3 linked regions of the Homo sapiens genome follow. The protein of the gene in region 2 purifies or fractionates together with the protein of the main gene of each other region. This does not show direct contact. Each region holds a gene or a part of one and is shown on either strand. Other genes may lie near its edges.

The links.
Region 1: the proteins of CDKL3 (region 2) and LSM14A purify together in Homo sapiens (affinity purification with mass spectrometry; one large-scale study listed by BioGRID and IntAct). This does not show direct contact.
Region 3: the proteins of CDKL3 (region 2) and AMY1A purify together in Homo sapiens (affinity purification with mass spectrometry, with the first as the bait; one large-scale study listed by BioGRID). This does not show direct contact.

What each region holds. Positions count from the first base shown.
Region 1 is NC_000019.10:34,178,863-34,182,521, reverse strand, and holds part of LSM14A (protein LSM14 homolog A), read right to left. Parts: intron 1-3,659. UniProt on the Homo sapiens protein: Essential for formation of P-bodies, cytoplasmic structures that provide storage sites for translationally inactive mRNAs and protect them from degradation. Acts as a repressor of mRNA translation. May play a role in mitotic spindle assembly.
Region 2 is NC_000005.10:134,311,535-134,315,193, forward strand, and holds part of CDKL3 (cyclin-dependent kinase-like 3), read right to left. Parts: intron 2,384-3,659; exon of another isoform or gene 1,877-2,383; intron 847-1,876; coding exon 758-846; intron 1-757.
Region 3 is NC_000001.11:103,661,896-103,665,202, reverse strand, and holds the end of AMY1A (alpha-amylase 1A precursor), read right to left. Parts: intron 2,547-3,307; coding exon 2,428-2,546; intron 2,318-2,427; coding exon 2,192-2,317; intron 873-2,191; coding exon 683-872; 3' UTR 649-682; downstream 1-648. UniProt on the Homo sapiens protein: Calcium-binding enzyme that initiates starch digestion in the oral cavity.

The sequences.
Region 1 (3,659 bases), on a different chromosome or scaffold from region 2:
AGAAACACTCAGAGGAAAAATCAAACCAAACCAAAAAACAAACAAACAACAACAAACCAGTGTGATCACATTTGTGAATTCCAGGAATAGAGAATTCTAAATAAAAGCTTCCAGAGAGAAAAGTGACTGAGAGTCAGACTGGCATCAGCAACCCCAGAATATTAGAAGAACAAAAAGCAGTAACTTCAAAGTTCCACAGAAAAAAGACTCTTAATTTGGAAATACATAGCCAACCAACCAGTCAAGCACAAGAAAACATAGGTTCACTAAGAAAATTTGTCACCTACATTTCCCATATATTTTATTTTTTAATTACAAAGATTCACTCAAGTAAAATTGGGAGGAGGAGAAAGAATCAACTGAGAGGTCAATATTGGAAACAAGAAACAGGAATCTGAGTATCTCTGAATAGACTAGTGAGAGATAATGGACCAGGGTAGTAGGGGTGGTCAGAGGTCAAATTCTGCATCTAGTTTGAAAGCAGAGCTGATAGGTTCGGATCACATGAGGTGAGACAGAGAGAGAGGAATTAAGGATGGCTCCAAGGTGTTTTGGTCTTACCAACTAGAATAGAGCTGTCATTTGATTAGATGGGGAAGGCTGATGGAGGAACAGGTTTGGAGCATGCTGAATTGAGATTCTAGCAGACTTCCCTACAAGTAGAGATGTTAAAGAGGCAATGGATATACAAGTCAGGAGTTCAGAGGAGAAATTCAGGCTAGAGATAGGAGTCAGTGATATACAGGTAGTATTTGAAACCAGGAACTAGATGGATGAGATCATCAAAAGAATGCAGATGATTAAATAAATGTTAACAGACAGAGAGAAAAGGGGAGATAACTGAGCCCTGGAGCTCTCCCAACATTTGGCGGCTTACAGGTTCAATCAGCCAAGGAGATTGAGAGGTAACCAGTGAGATATGAGGAAAAAAATGGCATACGATCAAGTTAAGAAAATGCTTCACAGAGAACAGACTAACTGTACCACGTAATGCTGACTGGTGAAGTAGAATGAGACTAAGAACTAACTACTGGATTTGGTAACATGGAAATCTTTGGTAATTTTGATAAGAAAACTTCATATGTAGGAATAAAAACCTTAGTAAACAGGGCTCAAAAATGAATGAACACCAGTGGTGTAGACAACTTCTTCAAGGGGTTTCGCTATAAAGGGAAGGATAGAAATGGGGTAATCATTAGAAAAGAGGAAATTCAGTTCAAGTACAGTGGGGTTTTTTGGTTGTTCTTAAGGTAGAAGAAATAACTGCCTATCTGTAAGCAGACAGAAAGATACGTTAGGGAAGGAAAAACTGAGGAGAGTAGAGAACTGCTGGAGCAATGTTCTTGAATCACCAAGAGGGGACAAATGCTGCACAAGTGGAAGGGTGGTCTTAGACAGAAATAAGAACAGTTTATCCATATTGATCAGAAAAAAACATAGAAGTCTGGGGAACAGATGCAGGTAACTGGGTATGTGAGGGGTAAGTTTATCAAAATTATCTTTCGTTTGCTGTTCTTTTCTCAGTTAACTGCTATAGAAAGCACGGTTAAGGGGCTGAAAGTGAATATGGGGGAGGTGTTGGAGGCTTGAGGAAAATGAATGGAATAGCCATGTAGAAAAGTGAAATGGATTATGGAAGTATAGTGTGACTGCTAGGAAGTGACCATGACTGCGGAGGCTAGCGAACATAAATTTAGAGTGAGGCTGGTCAGCACATCTGTGTTGATATAATCAGGGTTGTGATTTCTTGTATAAGACAGCAAGAGGGGAATGGGGTGGGGGCTGAGGGAATGTGTACTGACTGTCGTGGTTGCTCATGGAGTTGAAGCAGGATAAAGAAGGAAGTAAAGTTATGAGGGGAATGAGAGGACAGTGAAAGGCAGTAAGATGACAGTAGACTACAGTAGGTGTGAATGACTGACTGAGTTGGGCTACTAGAGAGACTGAGCACCTAGACAGAGAGGGAGATCGTGGTGGGAAATAACATGGGACAGCTATTCTCTATTAAGCACCAACATTAAACTAGTTACTTCTTTTATATCACCTCATTTAATTATCAGAATGACTCTGAAAGATGGGCATTATTATCCATCCCTATTGAAAAGATGAAGAAGTTAAAGCTAAGGTTAAATAACTTGTCCAAGACCAAAAAGCTGCTAAGTATTCCAACTGGCATTTTGGGTCGCATTTTCTTCCAGAAAAAAACAAACAAACAAAAAACCCTACAAAACTAGAATAAGGCCCTTGGGAATAAATTATTTTACAGACCAACTCACACTTTGTCCACTAAAAAACTTACTTCAAGCCAGACACTGTGGCTCACACCTGTAATCCCAGCACTTTGGGAGGCCAAGGCAGGCAGATCACTTGAGCCCAGGAGTTAGAGACCGACCTGGGCAGCATGGCAAAACCCTGTATCTACAAAAAACAGAAAATTAGCTGGGTGTGGTGGTGTGTGCCTGTGGTCCCAGCTACTTGGGAGGCTGAGGCAGGAGGATTACCTGAGCCCAGGGAGGTCAAGGCTGTGATCGTGCCACTGCACTCCAGCCTGGGCAACAGAGTGAGACTCTTGTCTCAAAACAACAACAACAAAATTTACTTCAATGGTATCTAGTTTTTAAAACAGCTAATTAATATATTATTTTATAGCATCATGAGAGAAAGACAAATTGTTTCTATAGCAAGCATCTTCTAGCACGGAATAATTAAATTCAAGTTAAACTATCTGTAGTTACTGCTATTATTACTGTGGCACTGAGTTAAATACAAAACTCCTGCTATGTATCATGCACAGATAAGATTTCTTTTTTCTTCCTACTTCCTTCCTTCTACTATTTTTTTTCTTCAGTTTTATGCTGTTTTCTTTACTTCCGACTTAGAAAATCATGGCTTACCTTACTTACCCCTACTAGAAAATGAACAGTTTCTGGCACCTGACTTCAGACTCCCAGAATTACCAAGTATTTCTGCGGACTATGTAACAATAATAAACTGTTTCCAAGGCTCCAAGTACTGGCAACATCACTAAATAGGGCAACAAAAAGAAACTGTGGCTTGAAGTTTCACTAGATCTTTGTCATTTTAGATAGTAATTTTGTGAATTGCTAGATTTAGATCCCCAAGTAATGCAAGAAATCAAATAAAGCACCCCGCAAGTATTTTATCCATCACACAAAGCTCTTCCACTCTCTCCAATAAGGTAATAGTTTATGACTATGTGACTAACATCAAGAAGTAGATAAATTATGCCAATGAGCCAGACTTAGCAGATGATTAAAGAAATCTGTTAACAATTTACTTGTTTTTCTATTCTTCCACCAATCTCTTGATTTTAAGAACAACTTATTTTAAAGGCAAGTGGCTTATATAATCGTTCTTCATAAAGTCTCTTTTCCCAGTGCAGTAGCAACCTGGTTTCCATTTGAATGATTATCCAGGTAAGCTAACTAAATGTAAGAATTTATTTTTTATAAGAATTTCATTCATTTTAGCCTATTTAGGCATCCTACTCACTTATAGACGTAGGTGCAAACACAACTGGAACTATTCCATAAAATATTCATACATGTCACCACTGTGTAATTTCTTCCTACACCCTGAATGGAGGCTTCCTTTAAACTTTAAATGAAAATTATAATTGAGCTTGAGTCACAAAGAGT
Region 2 (3,659 bases):
AGAGAATAAGTAGAAAAAAAATCATTTGGGAAGTGCATGCTAATTATGATAAATGAATGTCATCAGAAGAGGAAAAACCAGACTATTCTCTGAGTCAGAGGTCCAAACAGGAATAAAGCTAAGAAGTATTGATTGCTTATTTAATGTTATCTCTGGTCTATGATGACACTGAAACTGTAGTATGTAAAGAGCAGAGCACACTGCCTAGGACATGGTAACTGTGTAACGAATGTTAGTTGCAATTACTTTTTATTATTAGACTTTCTTTTTCTTTTTTTGAGATAGGGTCTCAACCTGTCACCCAGGCTGGAGTGCAGTGGTGCAATCTCAGCTCACTGCAACCTCCACCTCTGGGGTTTAAGCAATCCTCCCACCTGAGCCTCCCGAGTAGCTGGGACTACAAGCGTGTGCCACCACACCTTGCTAATTTTTGTATTTTTTGTAGAGACAGGGGTCTCTCTATGTTGCCCAGGCCGGTCGTGAACTCCAGGGCTCAAGCAATCTGCCTGCCTCAGCTTCGCAAAGTGCTGGGATTACAGGTGTGAGCCACTATGCCCATCCTATTATTAGGCTTTTCATTCGTGACACTTGTTAAGTCTGCTGTCTTCCTAGTCAATACCTGATACAATAACTCAATAAATTTTTGTTAAACTGAATATTTGTTATATAAAAGTAACCTATACAGCAATTTTCCTGCTAGTAAAATTTCCCAATACAAAATGCTTTTAAAAAACCCACATTCACTCAAAATGCTTACTTTTCAATAAATCCATCTCTAGTAAAATACTCATGATGCAAAAGATCACTAGATGATATCCTGTCAGCAGGATCAATTTGTAAACAAGCCTAGGAAAGGAAAAAGATTTTAATAAGTGAGCTCTCAACAGGGCTCCATATGGTAAAAATTAAATTTATTTGACAAATTAAGAAGTAAGTAATTATCCAGATCAAAAAGCCTTCTTGAAAAGATGGAATTAGACCTCAGGAACTTCTGGTAGTAAGTTCTGGCTGTTTATTTCCCTAAGGAATTTGCACTTGCAAAACATTATTATAGGTTAAATGTCCCATGATTCTAGCCAAAACAGAGGTCAGTCTGTTTCTGCTGAAATTAGCAAAAATTAATTAGCTCATTTTGATCCTCTTTTCTGCCCTGACAGGTGGAAAGTTCATGGATAATCATTTGCATTTTACAGATCTAGAAGCATGATTAGTAGTTTGCCAAACACGAGTTTTAACCCATGTTGTCTGACGCCTAATCCAGCACTCTTTCTATATCATAATACCATTTTGCAAATATTCAAGTCCCTAAATCTTTCAATAACCCATTATTAAATCAGCTCTTTTCTGTTTCCCTTTCTTGGTATAGAAACAAACAAACAAAATATGGAAGGTAGTTTTGAATGTTAAGTTGTACATAATAAATCTATATGTAGTTAAATAACAATAATTATAAATGGAACACATTTCTTTAATCAAAATACTGAAAACAGGTTTTCAATAAAAAGCATCTGCTTTATAATTTTCATTCCTCCTGTGAAAGGAGGTAAAACATTAATAGTTAACTTTTTTGTAGAGATGGGAGTCTTGTTATGTTGTAAGGCTGATGAACTCTTGAGTTCAAGCGATTCTCCCGCCTCAGTCTCCCAAAGTGCTGGAATTACAGAAGACAGCCACTGTGCTTGGCCTTTTAAAATTTTTTAGAGACAGGTTCTTACTCTGTCGCCCAGGCTGGAGTGCAGTGGTGCAATTATAGCTCACTGGAGCCTTGAACTCCTTGGCTCAAGATATCCTCCTTCCTTAGCCTCTTGAGTAGCTCAGACTACAGACACATGCCACCAAGCCTGACTAGTAACTTTTATTGATGCTTACTACATACCAGACAACGCTCCAGCTTTTTCTTCCTTCCATCGCAACAACAATCCTACAAAGTAAGTATTATTATTATCCTCATTATACAGATGAGGAGACTGAGGCCCAGAGAGATCAAGTAATTTGTTTAAGATCTCATAAGTAGAGGAGCCACAATTAAAATCCAGCAAATCCAAGATAATTGTATATAATATTATGTTTCTGTTTATTTCAAAATGCATATTTAAACTGATTCACAGAAAAAAATCTAGAGATCTGCTGTACTATAATGTGCATATAGTTAAAAATGCCATACTGTACACTTAATAATTTTGTAAGAAGGTAGATTCCATGTTATGTGGGGTTTTTTTTTTACCAAAATAAAAAACATTGATTCACAAGGAGAAATTATTTAAGTCTGTTACCTACTTAATGATGTGGCAATACCTAGGTCTTTAAGACTGCAACTAGTTGGCCAGGTGTGGTGGCTCATGCGTGTAATCCCAGCACTTTGGGGGGCAACAGAGGGTGGATCACCTGAGGTTGGGAGTTAGAGACCAGCCTGACCAACATGGAGAAACTCCGTCCCCACTAAAAAAAAAATAATACAAAATTAGCCGGGTGTGGTGGCACATGCCTGTAATCCCAGCCACTCGGAGGCTAAGGCGGAAGAATTGCTTGAACCCGGGAGACAGGAGGTTGCGGTGAGCCAAGATCACGCCATTGCACTCCAGCCTGGGCAAGAAGAGCAAAGCTCCGTCTCAAAAACAAAACAAAACGAAACAAACAAATTAAAAAAACCCTGCAACTAGTTAAAAATATGTGCTCATTTTAGAATATAATGGTAATCTATCACTAAAACTTATAAGAAAAATGCTAAAAGGTCTGACCAAATCATAGGGGCAGACAATTAGAGGCAGTCCTTCTGTGAATATAATTCAGTAAATTTAAATATATGCCCTACTTTGGAAAATGTAAAACATGACACTTTGGGAAACAGATTGGCAGTTTCTTTAAAAATTAAACATATGCCTACCCATGACCCAGCCATTCTGTTCTTAGATATTTCTGCAGGAGGAATGAAAATACAATGTGTGTTCCATACAAAGACAAACATGAATGTTCTCATGGCAACTTTATTTGTAATAGCGAAAAGTGGGAAATAACCCACATGTCCATCAACAGGGAAAGGATTTTTTAAAATGTGGTATAGTCATATAATGAACTACTACTCTGCAAAAAAGGAACAAATTGCTGATACATACAAAAACATGAATGAATCTCTAAACCATTATGCTGAGTGGAAGAAGCCAGACATGAAAGAGTGCCTACTGTATGCTTCTATTTATATAAGATTCTAGAAAATTCAAACTAATCTATGGGAATAGAAAGCAAATCAGTGGTTATCTGGGGACAGAAATGGAAGAAAAGATGAATTGTAAAAGGACACAATGAAATTTTGGAGAGTGATGGAAATGTTAGGTATCGTGTGTGTGTTTGTGTGTGTGTGTGTTAGGTATCCTGATTGTGGTGGTGGTTTCATGTGTGTATACATGCATCAAAACTCTTCAAATTGTACATTTTAAGTATGTATAGTTTACTGCCCACAAATTATACCTCAATAACATTGTTTAGAAAATTTATATCTAGGAAAAATATGTGCCCTACATCAGATATCAAAGTGTATTTTAAAGTTACAATAATAAATCAAAGTTGTACTACTTCTAGAATAAAGAGAAAAATCAATGGAACAGAAACAAACCCACACATGTATAAGCATTTTGTCTATGATAAATGTAGCATTCCAAATC
Region 3 (3,307 bases), on a different chromosome or scaffold from region 2:
TAGGCTGCCTACTTTACAACTTGGTAAGGCCTGGGGACATATGAAATTAACCATGCCCTAACTAGAATGGAAAAAGTCAGACTTTATCTGCATCTAGTACATAATTAAAACAACTTACCAGGTTTACATTAAAGTTAAAAATTGCTAAGATTGACCATAAAAATATGTAAATAAGACAACTAAAAATAAATTTACATGCAAGGTGTGTAGGAACACTTAAATGTGTTTGTGGTAAAAGATTATAAAAAGGCATAAAAATGTAAATGTTGCCTATGGAAAAAGGATTCTTTTGAAACCTATGTAAGGGTAAAATTTGGCTTTCCTTCCCTTGTACAGATTTTTCATGTAATAGAGAAGAATAATGAAATATTTGGTTTGCCTTGTTGGTAGAATGCCAAGGAGAGAAAAGAGTAGACAGGAGACAAACTGTTTGGAAAGCTAAGTCTTACCTCTTAATGAGTAAAGATTGTTGCCTAGTTTTAAAATTTTTGAGTCATCCTTTTGCCAAAATAAATAACTTATGTGTAACCTGGAATTGTATTTCATACTATCAAGTGTCTTAAACCTCTTTTTACTAATTAGAGCTTTTATTTAAAATTAATGATATGTAACTATTACTGTATATGTAAGAAAAGAAACACACTTAGCTATTGCTTTGCGGATTTGCATTTAATTTTAAATTTTACAATTTAGATTCAGCATGAATTGCAATAAATGGATCTTCAGCAGAGTTACTAATAGAAAAATGAGCTTTGCCATCATCAGAAACGTAGATTTTAATGCCTGTGCAGTTGCCATTAATTTTATCTCCAGAAATGACATCACAGTATGTGCCAGCAGGAAGACCAGTTTGCAAAGTTAAAGAAAATGTCCTGTAAAATAAAATTTCAGATTTAACTTCAAAACAATGAAATCAAGAATACAGACTAACACAAATAAACAGCATAACTTTATGTTTTAGAACCCTAAGCAGTGAAGTCTCATTAAGAAGAAAACCCATATGCCTCCCTAGTAGGTGTAAACAGCTTTCTAGGACCAAAAGTAACCTTACAGAAAACCTACCAATTTCCTTTTCAGTAGTGAAAATATAACCGAAAAATCAAAGTTGAAGAATATCACCGAAGATTGGCGGGAGCGGTCACATTTTGATAAAGTGCTACCTTGGTAAAATCAAATTTTTTCTCAACTGAACTTAATGCCAATTACTTTAAAAATTTAAAGGGTATTATTTTTTTAACCTTCTTTTATTCTACATGAGGTCAAAAAGAATTTAGGGTGTACATAAAAACAGTCTAGCATTTGTATGAGGAAGTGATAGTTTGAAATATAAAGCTTTTTCACAAAAGATTTTTTTGGTATTTTCATCCACAAAAGAAGGAAACTAAGGAAATAGACACGCATTTTTTTGGCAGGAAAGAGATCAACTTGACTTATATATTTTTGTATTTATTTATTTTTCATAAGTGAAGTATAATTTATACTAGAGTGAGCTAAGTATGAGTGTCAGTTGGCCTTGGACAGAGACAATTCAACTGTTTGCAAGGAGGTCTTCTCAGCTACAGTTTCGGGAATCATTTATACTACAGCCAAAGGATACAAAAATCACAGATGAAAGGCCAATAATGAGAAGTTTCAGAACTAAAACTCAAGTCTCCTGAAGCAAATCATTAACCACAAGATACATATTATTTATCCATATGCTTTAAAAATGTTATTTGTCACAAGGAGACAGAGAAGTGAAGAAAGTATACCAAAAAACTAGGTAGAGCTGTCATTGAGAAAAAGAGAAATAAAGATATTTTAGTACTGAGGCAGCATTTTTCCATGATTAAAAGAGCAGGACTATAAGAAACGTTCTTTTAATGATTTCACAATCCTTCTATTAATTACTTTGTGTATTTTGTGGCATGTGTAGGTAAGCATATGAATGTGCATTCTATATATGCATAAGATATTGCAAGGGTGCACAGAAAGGATTCTGCTTACAACAGAAAGCACTTATGAAAACAGGAGAACGAAGGAGTAACAGCCATCATCCTTTTGCTTCTACCCAATTTTGATCTCTATTGTCTTCTCGCTCCACTGACTACATGATTTTTCAGATATGATAAATGTCAATGAACAGAAAAAAAAAAGAATAAACCAAGAACATACTGGTACAAAATATTATTTTTAATTGATATTTACTTACCAGTCATCATTGTTGAAAACAATGAATCCTCTGTTTCCTCTCCCAAAAGCCACTTGGTTGCTCCCATTATCATACCAGTTTGTAAAAGGCTGGCCATCCACTACATTGCGGAAATTAACCATGTTCCTAAAAACACAATACCATATAAAACGTTGATATTCTTAAACTTCAACTGTTTTAAATAAAGTGCTACGGAAATTTACTATTAGAGGACATGTCTAAATACATATTCTCACCTTATTTGGCGCCATCGATGTTCACAGACCCAGTCATTGCCACAAGTAGTGTCTGGATTAATAGTAACTTCTTTAGTTACTCCATTATCATTTGGTGGCCCAACCCAATCATTAACATCCTTAATTACAGGAGGAAAAGCCAAATTTTAGCATATATATATTTATCTCTTCCTTCTCCTTTAAACCAAACCCAACCTATCCTGTTACTTGTGTCTCTGCATTCAGTGACTTTATCTAGAATCCAATGCCTTCATTGATTTTTATAGCCCTTTACTGGGTCTTCATCATCTCTCTATCCTCTGGTTCTCTTTTGCCATATTTCAAACAAAGGTAGCAAATTGTTATCCTCTCCTTTTCATTCCAAGGCACTGCAAAGACTTCTTTGCTCTGTCACCCAGGCTGGAGTACAGTGGCATGATCGTAGCTCACTGCAGCCTTGATCTCCGAGGCTCAAGCGAACCTCCCATCTCAGCCTCCCAAGTAGCTAAGACTGTTGGTGTGCACCACCGCACCCAGCTAATTTTTTTTTTTTTTTAATTTTCAGTAGAGGCAAGGTCTTGCTAGCTTGCCCAGATAGGTCTTGAACTCCTCAGGTCAGCTGACCTTCTCAGCTGGCCGCACACAGTGCTGGGATTATAGGTGTGAGCCACTGCACCTGGCCTGCAAGGGCTTCTTAACATCACTGTAAGCCATGCAATGGCATTGAAATGGGAAGGGCATTAGTACTAGAAACACCAGGATTAAAACATAGGCTCTATTACTAGTAGCTGAGAAAATTTAATCAATATAAATAATTTCTCTGTGTCTCAGTTTCCTCATTTGTAAAATGAGAATAATGAGTTCTTTTGCTATAAAAATTAAGTAATATATGTGAAAATGC